Linked DNA regions of Homo sapiens: region 2 is linked to region 1. Evidence: fine-mapped expression QTL. A gene starts in region 1. The other region holds a variant in brackets. All regions are shown on one strand. Distances are between the middles of the regions. Region 1 holds the start of MEN1 (menin 1). Region 2 holds the start of SF1 (splicing factor 1).

Region 1 (5,368 bases):
CAAAGTGCTGGGATTACAGGCGTGAGCCACCGTGCCCAGTCTGGCTTTTGTTTTTGTTGTTGTTGTTTTTAGGGACAGGATCTCACTGTGTTACTCAGGCTGGAATACAGTGGTGCGATCACAGCTCACTGCAGCCTCGAACTCCTGCCTGAGCTTCCTGAGTAGCTGGGACTACATGGTGCACACCACTGTGCCTGGCTAATTTAAAATAATTTTTTTTTTTTTTTTTTTTTTTTTTTTTGTAGAGGCAGGGTCTTGCTTTGTTGCTCAGGCTGGTCTGGAACTTTTGGCCTCAAGCAGTCTTCCTGCCTTGGCATGTCAAAGCCCTGGGATTACAGGTGTGAGCCACTGAGCTTAGCTTTGACTGTTTTTGAAACACAAAGTGGCTAAAGCCTGTAATGCCACCACTTCTGGAAGGCTGAGGTAGGTAGATCACCTAAGGCCAGGTGTTCAAGACCAGCCTGGCCAACATGGTGAAACCCCATCTCTACTAAAAATACAAAAACTAGCCGTGTGTGGTGGCGGGTGCCTGTAATCCCAGCTACTCGGGAGGCTGAGACAAGAGAATCACTTAAACCTGGGAGGCAGAGGTTGCAGTGAGCCAAGATCGTGCCATTGCTCTCCAGCCTGGGCGACAGAGCGACTCTGTCTCAAAAATAAATAAATAAATAAATAAATTAATTAATTAATTAAATTAAATTAAACTCAAAGTCGCATACTCCCGAGTTGCCTCAGTTCTGGGCCAGCTTGGAAGGCTGGTTACCCTGTTTACTAGTTTTTCTACTGATGTCCTTTTTCTGTTCCAGGATTTGATCCAGAACACCACATTGCATTTAGTTGTTCTGTCTCCTTGGTCTCTCATCTGCAATGATTTGTGGGTCTTTCCTTATCTTTCATGACCTTGGCTCTTTTGATTTCTTTTGTTTTTTGTTTCTGAGGCGGGGTCTCACTGTGTTGCCCACGCTGGAGTGCACTGGCGTGACAGCTCACTGCAGTCTTGACCTCCTGGGCTCACATAATCCTCCTGCCTCAGCCTTCTGAGTAGCTGGGACTACAGGTGAGCACCACCACACCTGGTCAATTTTTTGTTTTTGTAGAGTCCGGGTCTCCCTATGTTGCCCGGGCTGGTCTTGAACTCCTGGCCTCAAGCAATCCTCCTGCTTCAGCTTCCCAAAGTGTTGTAATTACAGGCATGAGCCTGGCATGAACTTGACACTATTGAGATATACTGGTCAGGTATTTTGTGGAATGTCCCTCAACTCTGTTTTGCCAGATGTTTTCTCATGATTAGAGGAGAGTTATAAATTTTGAGGAAAATCCAGAGAGGTGAAGAGGTGAAGTAGGGCAGAAATTTAATCTGTTTTATTTACTGCTATATACCGAGTGTCTGGAACTTGGCCCATGGTAAGTACCAAAAATCTGTTTTTTTTGAATGAATAAGCAAATAAATGAGTGACCGTGGAAATTTAGTATTATTTCAAAGTTTCAAAGCGTTGTTGATACAGGCCAGGCACAGTGGCTCACACCTGTAATCCCAGCACTTTTGGAGGCCGAGGTAGGAGGATCACTTGAGGTCAGGAGTTCGAGACCAGCCTGACCAACATGGTGACACCCCTGTCTCTACTAAGTAAAATACAAAAATTAGCCAAGTGTGGTGGCAGGCACCTGTAATCCCGGCTACTTGGGAAGCTGAGGCAGAAGAATCACTTGAACCTGGGAGGCAGAGGTTGCAGTGAGCCGAGATCACCCCACTGCACTCCAGCCTGAGTGACAGAGCGAGACTCTGTCTCAAAACAAATAAACAAATAACTACTCTTTGGCCGGGTAAGGTGGTTCACGCCTGTAATTTTAGCACTTTGGGAGGCTGAGGCGGGCAGATCACTTGAGGTTAGGGGTTCGAGACCAGTCTGGCCAACATGGTGAAACCCCATCTCTACTTAAAATACAAAAAGTTTTCTGGGTGTGGTGGCGGACGCCTATAATCCCAGCTACTTGGGACTTTTTTTTAAGACGGAATCTCACTCTGTTGCCCAGGCTGGAGTGCAGTGGCAAGATTCTGGCTCACTGAAGCCTCCGCCTCCCAGGTTCAAGGGATTCCCCGCGCCTCAGCCTCCCAAGTAGCTGGGAATCCCTGTCTCTGCAAAAAAAAAAAAAAAAAAAAAAAAAAAAAAAAATATATATATATATATATATATATGTGTGTGTGTGTGTGTGTGTGTGTGTGTTATATGTATATATATTTATGTATATGCACATACACACAAAATTAGGCGGGAGTGGTGGCGCACGCCTGTGATCACAGCTACTCGGGAGGCTGAGGCACGAGAATCGCTTGAGCCCGTGAAGTCGAGGCTGCAGTGAGCCCAGATCGAGCCACTGCATTCCAGCCTGGGCGAAAGAGAAAGACCGTGTCTCAAAACAAACAAACAAAAGCTACTCTTAGCACGTGTTAGAGTATCTCGCGGGCGGAAGTGGGAAACGAGTGCTGCACACAGAGTAGGCATCTTTATATGTTAACAGACACTGATACCCAGCTAAAGCGGCTGAACACATTTACTCTCTGGCAGTGTTTAAAAGTATCTGTTTTTCTCATATTGTTTTATTTTAATTTTTTCTGGATCAAGCAACCTGATCTTTTTCCTCATAACTTGCCGACCGACCCGTGACAGCAAAACCGGCAGAAGCTCGGCGACCTCCCACCCCGAGTCTGCAGGTAGTGCCCCCGGACTACATTTTCCAGAAGGCACTGCGGGCACGCTTCCTGCCTGGTCGGCCTGAAGGGAAGGGCCAATCCCTGAGTATCTCGGGAAGGAGGTGTCCGGAGCCGCGGACCTAGAGATCCCAGAAGCCACAGCGCAGCGGCCCGGCCCGCCACTATTTCCAGGCTCAGCGGGGCAGGGGTGGGCCCAGACTCCACTTCCCGGCGGGTAGTGCGACCCTAGGGGCGGGACTTCATGTCCCAGCAGGCTCCGGGCGGCGTGCGCCGCGGTGCCTAGTGTGGGATGTAAGCGCGGAGGTGGGCGAGGGGGACCGAGGCCAGGACTCTCCTTGGGGTTTGGGGGCTTGACCTGGGTGCGCTTTCTGGACAGACTTTACAGCCCCGGGGGCACAGTCGTAGAGAGGGGGCGGGGCGGCCATTGGGGCTCCTCATTGGGGTGCTTGGGGCGCACCCCATCGGGTACCGGGCGTCCCGGAATTGTGGGGGACAAAAAGGCTCTGCAGTCTCGGCTGAGGGGTCTCACCGACAAAAGAGGGGAAGCCGGTGAGCAGAGGCTGAAGAGGGTGGGGAAGCAGGGGAGCTGTGCGTGTGTCGGGGCGGGTGGAACCTTAGCGGACCCTGGGAGGAGGCTCCCCGGCCGAACCTGCCCGACCCTCCCTCCCCCGGCTTGCCTTGCAGGCCGCCGCCCACCGCCCGCCGCCATGGGGCTGAAGGCCGCCCAGAAGACGCTGTTCCCGCTGCGCTCCATCGACGACGTGGTGCGCCTGTTTGCTGCCGAGCTGGGCCGAGAGGAGCCGGACCTGGTGCTCCTTTCCTTGGTGCTGGGCTTCGTGGAGCATTTTCTGGCTGTCAACCGCGTCATCCCTACCAACGTTCCCGAGCTCACCTTCCAGCCCAGCCCCGCCCCCGACCCGCCTGGCGGCCTCACCTACTTTCCCGTGGCCGACCTGTCTATCATCGCCGCCCTCTATGCCCGCTTCACCGCCCAGATCCGAGGCGCCGTCGACCTGTCCCTCTATCCTCGAGAAGGGGGTGTCTCCAGCCGTGAGCTGGTGAAGAAGGTCTCCGATGTCATATGGAACAGCCTCAGCCGCTCCTACTTCAAGGATCGGGCCCACATCCAGTCCCTCTTCAGCTTCATCACAGGTTGGAGCCCAGTAGGTGGGAATCTTATCCATGACCCACTTCTTCAAAACCCTCCATGGTTTACAGAACCCTTTTAAGAACTGTAAGCCTTGTGAGGTTCGGCAGGTGTTATTTTCCTCTTTGCAGTTGGGAAACTGAAGCCCAGAGAGGGGAAATGATATGCCAAAGTCACACACGGCATGGCAGGGCTGGAAGTGAAGCCTGATCACTTGGCTCCAAATCATCAACCTCACCTCTGCCCCCTCAGCACCCCCACCCTTGCCACTGAACAGCTACAGGAGTTCTAAGCATGAGACACAGAGGGCGGCAGCAGATTTAGGGGGCAAGAAGATGAAATTGGGCTGCATTTGAGGCAGTTAAACAAAATAATGGCTATGAAGATTTTTTTTTTTTTTTTTTTTGAGACAGGGTCTCACTCTGTCCCCCAGGCTGGAGTGCAGTGGTGTGATCATGGCTCACTGCAGCCTCAGTCTCCCTGGGCTCAGAGATCCTCCAACCTCAGCCTCCTGAGTAGCTGAGAGTACAGGCATGCACCGTGGTGCTGGTTAATTTTTTGTATTTTTTTTGTAGAGATGGTGTCTCACTATGTGGCCCAGACTGGTCTTGAACTCTTGGGCTCAAGTGATCTGCCCGCCTCAGTCTCCCAAATGCTGGGATTACAGGTGTGAGCCACCGCAACTGGTGGCCTATGAAAATTTTTTTTTTTTTTTCAGACGGCGTCTCACTCTGTCGCCCAGGCTGGAGTGCAGTGGTGCAATCTCGGCTCACTGCAAGCTCTGCCTCCTGCTTTCATGCCATTCTCCTGCCTCCTGCCTCAGCCTCCTGAGTAGCTGGGACTACAGGAGCCTGCCACCATGCCTGGCTAATTTTTTTTTGGATTTTTAGTAGAGACGAGGTTTCACCATGTTAGCCAGGATGGTCTCGATCTCCTGACCTCGTGATCCGCCCGCCTTGGCCTCCCAAAGTGCTGGGATTACAGGCGTGAGCCACCGCACCTGGTCAAAAATGTTTGAGACAGAGAAGGGGCTTGACCTCAAAAGGCTTAAGAGTCAGGGCTTGCAAAGAGCTTTGCACCAAGCCCGGTTGACTGGCAATCCCATCCTGGTGTGCCATATTGAGAAGGAATCAGAGGCTGCTTCTCAGCTTAGCAGGAAAAGAGTGCAGAGATAAATGAGGGTTATTTGTTGGTGGGTGTATAGCCAGAGAGTGTTGGCCAGCGTCCTGTTTTTGCCATTCCTGTTTTAACCTAGTAAGTGCAGTAAAATGGAATCCCTAAATCCATAGAATATATAATAGAGTTGCAGAGAAAGACGAGGTAGGGCCAAAGGCTGGGTCAGCTACAGGATATCCAGAAAGGTATCTTGTTGGACATAGAGGGTGTAAACAGGGAGAGAGTCTTTGAACACGTGGGAGGGAAGGGATGGAGGGATAGTGGGCAGGAGAATCTGAGGTTGGGTCACAGGCTTGGAAAGGGAGTGGGAGGGAGTGTGGCCCATCACTACC
Region 2 (5,368 bases), 32 kb after region 1:
ATTTCAATAGTTTATTCAAGCACAAAACATGAGGGTGGACTACCTGGAAACACCGACTCCAAATGAATGGAGTCAGTGTTTCGAAGTAGAGAAGTTAAGGTTTCATTTACACACACAAAGGCAGAGGAGTTTTAGGATTACATTCTTCATATATGGTCAGTGCGTACTTACAGTAATTTGGTTATAGGCCGAGTGCAGTGGTCCACTCCTGTAATCCCAGCACTTTGGGAGGCCGAGGCGGGCAGATCACCTGAGGTCAGGAGTTCAAGACCAGCCTGGCCAACATGGTGAAATTCCATCTTTACAAAAATGTAACAATTAGCTGGGCATGATGGCAGGTGGCTGTAATCCCGGCTACTCAGGAGGCTGAGGTGGGAGAATCGCTTGAATCTGGGAGGCAGAGGGTGCAGTGAGCCGAGATTGTGCCATTGCACTCCAGCCTGGGCGACAGAGCCAGACTCTGTCTCAAATTGAAATAATAATAATAAATAATTTGGTTGTAAGCAGTGTTTCTTTTTGGGAGGCATACATTTAACATTTTTTACAGAGGGTGTAATAGTCATGGGTTTGCTGTCATCTGGTCTAAGTAAAGCAGGACAACAAAAGGGAAGTTATCTATAAGAAGGGTCATTAAGAAGGCAGCAGGTTTTTGTCCCATGTTTAATTCTCTCCAATAATTGTACAGAACAAGAAAAACAAGCAGGTCTAATTTATTATCTCAGAAAAAATTATAACCATACATGGCTGAGATCACAGTCACCTCTCTCTCCAGGTTTCAAGTGTTGTGGGGGTTCCAACATCTTTTCTATTTATTTTAAAAAACCACAGCAGAGGGGTTGTGCACCCTTTCATATTTCTTGGCTATTTGGATTTGTTCTTCTGAGACATGTCCATTCCTATTTTTTGCTCATTTTCTATTGTTTTTGCCTTTTTTCTAATTAGTTTTTAAGATGTATTTGTATATTACAGGTATTGGCTCTTTATCATGTATGGCAAATATTTTTTCCTCATCTATCATTGTCTCTTGACTTTTATCAGTGTTAATTTTCGGGGTAATCAAGTATATCTTTTTACAGTTTGAGGTTCCTGTCTTTGCAGTCTCTCAACCCCTAGAATACCCTTATAGTCTCCTAAATTATATTCTAAATGTTTTGTTGTTTAAATTTAAGATTCTACGCCATTTATCAACGAAATCATCTTTTCCTGATTGAAATAAAATACTACATTTGTGGTATTTCCGGATTCTGTTGCACTAATGTGTCTTTCCTACCAACAATATCATATTGTTTTATTATTGTGGTTTTTTGTTTTTGAGACGGAGTCTCATGCTGTTGCCCAGGCTGGAGTACAGTGGTGCGATCTCAGCTCACTACACCTCCGCCTCCTGGGTTCAAGCAATTCTCCTGCCTCAGCCTCCTGAGAAGCTGGGATTATAGGCGTCTGCCACCACGCTCGGCTAATTTTTGTACTTTTAGTAGAGACGGGGGTTTCACCGTGTTGGTCAGGTTGGTCTCGAACTCCTGACCTCAGGTGATCCCCCCGCCTTGGCCTCCCAGTGCCTTGGCACTGGCCTATTGTGTTTTATATACTATGTTTGTCATCTGGAAAGGCAAGCTCCTGCTCCGTCTTGTAAAGTTTTCCCAGTACTGTAGTAGTTATTTTTATTTTTATTTTTGACAGTCTCGCTCTGTCACCCAGGCTGAAGTGCAGTGGCCCCATCTCGGCTCACTGCAACCTCCGCCTCCCGGGTTCAAGCGATTCTCTTGCCTCATCCTCCTGGGAAGCTGGGATTGCAGGAGTGCACCACTACACCCAACTAATTTTTGTATTTTTCGTAGAGACGGGGTTTCGCCATGTTGGTCAGGCTGGTCTCGACCTTCTGACCTTGTGATTCGCCCGCCTCGGCCTGTCAAAGTGCTGGGATTACAGGCGTGAGCCACCGCGCCCGGCCGTAGTTATTGTTTTATACGATTTTAAGATCATTTAATTAAATCCTCTGAACTCCGTGGAGATTCCAATAGAAGTGTGTATTTGTAATTTTTGAACTGACAACCTTCTGTTACCTTTCATCTAATATGTTGTTGCATCAGTTCAAATACTGTTTTAAATCCTTCGATAAGTCGTCTCTATTCGTAGCTTTTTGGGTCACTTTTTTTTTTTTTTTTTTTTTCCAAAAAAACAGGAAGTCTTTTTACCTGCAGCGTCAACTGAGCCGGTTTTCCGGCGCGCGCCAGCCCCTCCCCTGCTCCCGCCCCAAGGTTCTGCGTTACCATGGGAACAAAGGTTGACGTCACTTAGGGCTTCCTTGCTGGACCCAAGGGTCGATGGTGAAGGGAGACGGGTGGAGAGGCGGTTTTGCTCCATCTACGCATGCGCACTTCCTGCTCCAGGACTCCCCCGCCGTAAATCTCGTTCCGGCTGGGCCTTTTCCGCCGCGACTCTCGCTTAATCCCGGAGAAACTGCCCCCTGGGGGAGGGGAGTAGAAAAAGGCTG[G/A]AACCAGCGACAGCCAATCCCGCGACACTACAACGCAGGCGAGATTGATTGAGTCCACCACCGCAGCCAATGAGAGAGCTCGCCGTCGCTCCGTCATAGAGTTCGCCCCACCCCATCCCCTCCTTTCTGGACTCGGAGCTCAGTTCACGCAGTAACAAATGAAGTGCGCGCTGCGACACCTCCCAGCCCACCGAACTCCGCCGCCATTTCCTCGCTTGGCCTAACGGTTCGGCCAATCCCAGCGCGCATCAAGAAGGACTGAGGCTCCGCCAATCGGAGGCCGCCGATTTCGACCCTTCGCCTCGGCCCGGCCCAATCCAGGCCCCGGCCCCGCCGCCCCCGGCCCGCCCCCGCGGTGCCCTCTCTCCTCCCTCTTTGTGCGTCTCGCGCCGCCGCCGCCCGCCGCGTGAGAGGACGGGCTCCGCGCGCTCCGGCAGCGCATTCGGGTCCCCTCCCCCCGGGAGGCTTGCGAAGGAGAAGCCGCCGCAGAGGAAAAGCAGGTGCCGGTGCCTGTCCCCGGGGGCGCCATGGCGACCGGAGCGAACGCCACGCCGTTGGGTAAGCTGGGCCCCCCCGGGCTGCCCCCGCTCCCCGGGCCCAAAGGAGGCTTCGAGCCGGGCCCTCCGCCTGCACCCGGGCCTGGGGCGGGGCTGCTGGCTCCCGGGCCGCCGCCGCCCCCGCCCGTGGGCTCGATGGGGGCCCTGACCGCGGCCTTCCCCTTCGCGGCGCTGCCTCCGCCGCCTCCGCCGCCGCCCCCTCCGCCTCCCCAGCAGCCGCCGCCGCCTCCACCGCCACCGTCCCCCGGCGCCTCGTACCCGCCGCCGCAGCCGCCCCCTCCGCCGCCGCTCTACCAGCGCGTGTCGCCGCCGCAGCCGCCGCCACCCCAGCCGCCGCGTAAGGACCAGCAGCCGGGCCCGGCCGGCGGCGGAGGAGGTGAGTCGGGCCGAGAGAGCGCGAGAGGCGTCGCGCGGACGGGCCCGGCCGCCTGAGGGGCGCGCGGCGGCGGCGACGGCGGCTGCACGCGGCAGGGGCGCGCGTGCGCGCACGGGGAGGCCCGGGCGGAGGCGCCCCTGGGCGCGCGCGGCCTGGTTCTAGGGCCTCGAGTGCGCACGCGCGCTGTGGGGGGAGGGCTGGGCGGGCGGGAGGCGCTCTGTGCGCAGACGCAGTGAGGTGGCCGGGCTGTGCGGCGCAACTGTATAGACTGGGGGCCCACTATTGCTGTCCAGTCCGCTGGTGTCGGGAACAGGGGTGGCGGGTGTTCAGCGCTGGACGGGGTGCTAGCTGTGAATGCCAGCAGGGCGTGAAAGCCTCACCTGATGACGTGCAGCGACTCCCTTCTGGTCTTGAGGAACCAGAATGGGAACCGTACCAAGGATAGCTCCTCTGCTTCTACAGCAAGGCAGGGTTTTCATCCGGGAGAGGTTGGCATGCTTCAGATGATGGTTGGGTCTGATCTTTCTTGGTCTCTTTTGGGGAGAGAATTTTAGTTTGTTTTTTTTTTTAAATCTGTTCAGTATGTTTAGATCTCAGTCTGATCGGCTGCCCTGTCGCTTTGTTTTAAAAAGCTTTTCCCTCTGATCCTGTACCCCTTGGGAAATAGAAGGACTCTTTTGTGGCAAATGTAGGGAGTTTCTGCCTATGTACGGGGAAAGGAGAACTTGGCTGCTATTGTATAGGTTGTTGAATTTTTGATAGATCCTTTTAAGAGTTCAGACCCTCAGTGTCCAACTGGCCAGGAAAACTGAATGCTGATCTTGGCTAAACTTATGAAGACAAAGGTGATCTTGTTGAAGAATTGGGCTTTTCCCACTTGGTAGGGTGTAACTAGGTTTAGTTGTGGTCCGGCCTCTCGTACAAAAGTGACTGGTGAGGGGAGTGGAGGTGGGTGGAGCCCCCAGTCCCATCAGGACTGCTTTACAAATCTATGATTCTTCAGTGTATTTTTGTCTCCCCTGGGGATTTCAGAGCACTCATGGTTGATGTAGTATCTATCTAACACTCTCTGCAGCCATATGCATTAAGATTACCACGTTTATATATCTGACAGTTTTTCTAGACAAAAGAAGGTGAAATGTTAACTTGCCTGACCAAGGACCACATACCCTTGTAGTGGCCATAAGCTTTAAATCTCTGATCTCTGAGGTTTGTTTTCTGTTTTTTTAATGTTTAAGTTTTAGGTTAAGCTCTCAGCTTCACAGTCTGCTGAGTTTCTGTGTAGTACCTTAAATACCCTTAGCTGTCTGTTGATAACTACTTGTATTTACATCGGATGGATTTTGTCTCTGCCTTTTAGACTTCCCAAGTAAGAAGCGGAAGAGGAGCCGCTGGAACCAAGACACAATGGAACAGAAGACAGTGATTCCAGGAATGCCTACAGTTATTCCCCCTGGACTTACTCGAGAACAAGAAAGAGCTTATATAGGTAAATATACGTTCTGCATCCAAATGCACTTTGAGATTGTTACGATTTATTCTGAGCAAGATCTGCATTTTTTGAAAGTTTGAGATTGTAGTTATCTTTTTTGAGATGAGATACTTTCACGACTTTGGTATCATCTGTCAGTTTTTGCCCAGTGAGTTCTGCATTTGCAGCTCCTTGTTTTGGTCTGTTCGTAACTGCAGTGTTCTCCATGAGTATCAGGAAGGTAGGGTTTCACTTAGGAGTAAGAACAGTCCCCAGTCCAGCAGCCACCCTTTTCAGCTGCTGTTCATTGCCAGTTGATGAGGTGAGTGTCATCTGCCTCTCTGGACAGGCCCCAGTGGAGAACACCGCAGGTACTGTAAACCAAGTACTTTTCACAGCGTGGCCTTTCACCATAATTTTATATTTCTCCCCCTAAAATGTGGTCTTTTACTTTTTATAGGTACTTTCTG

Evidence for each region. PIP is the estimated chance that this variant, and not a neighbour inherited with it, causes the effect.
Region 2: its variant is fine-mapped to the expression of MEN1 in whole blood (TOPMed, PIP above 0.99).

The regions. Positions count from the first base shown.
Region 1 is chr11:64,808,162-64,813,529 of GRCh38, reverse strand. MEN1 (menin 1) reads left to right here and starts at 2,979. Exons shown (of 10, transcript NM_001370259.2): 1 at 2,979-3,016; 2 at 3,398-3,865. The coding sequence starts at 3,421.
Region 2 is chr11:64,776,046-64,781,413 of GRCh38, reverse strand. SF1 (splicing factor 1) reads left to right here and starts at 2,872. Exons shown (of 13, transcript NM_004630.4): 1 at 2,872-3,052; 2 at 4,788-4,916. The coding sequence starts at 3,022. RefSeq lists enhancers at 2,408-2,517, 2,494-3,095 and silencers at 2,758-3,157, 3,418-3,727. The variant G/A (reference allele first, on the strand shown) is at 2,495.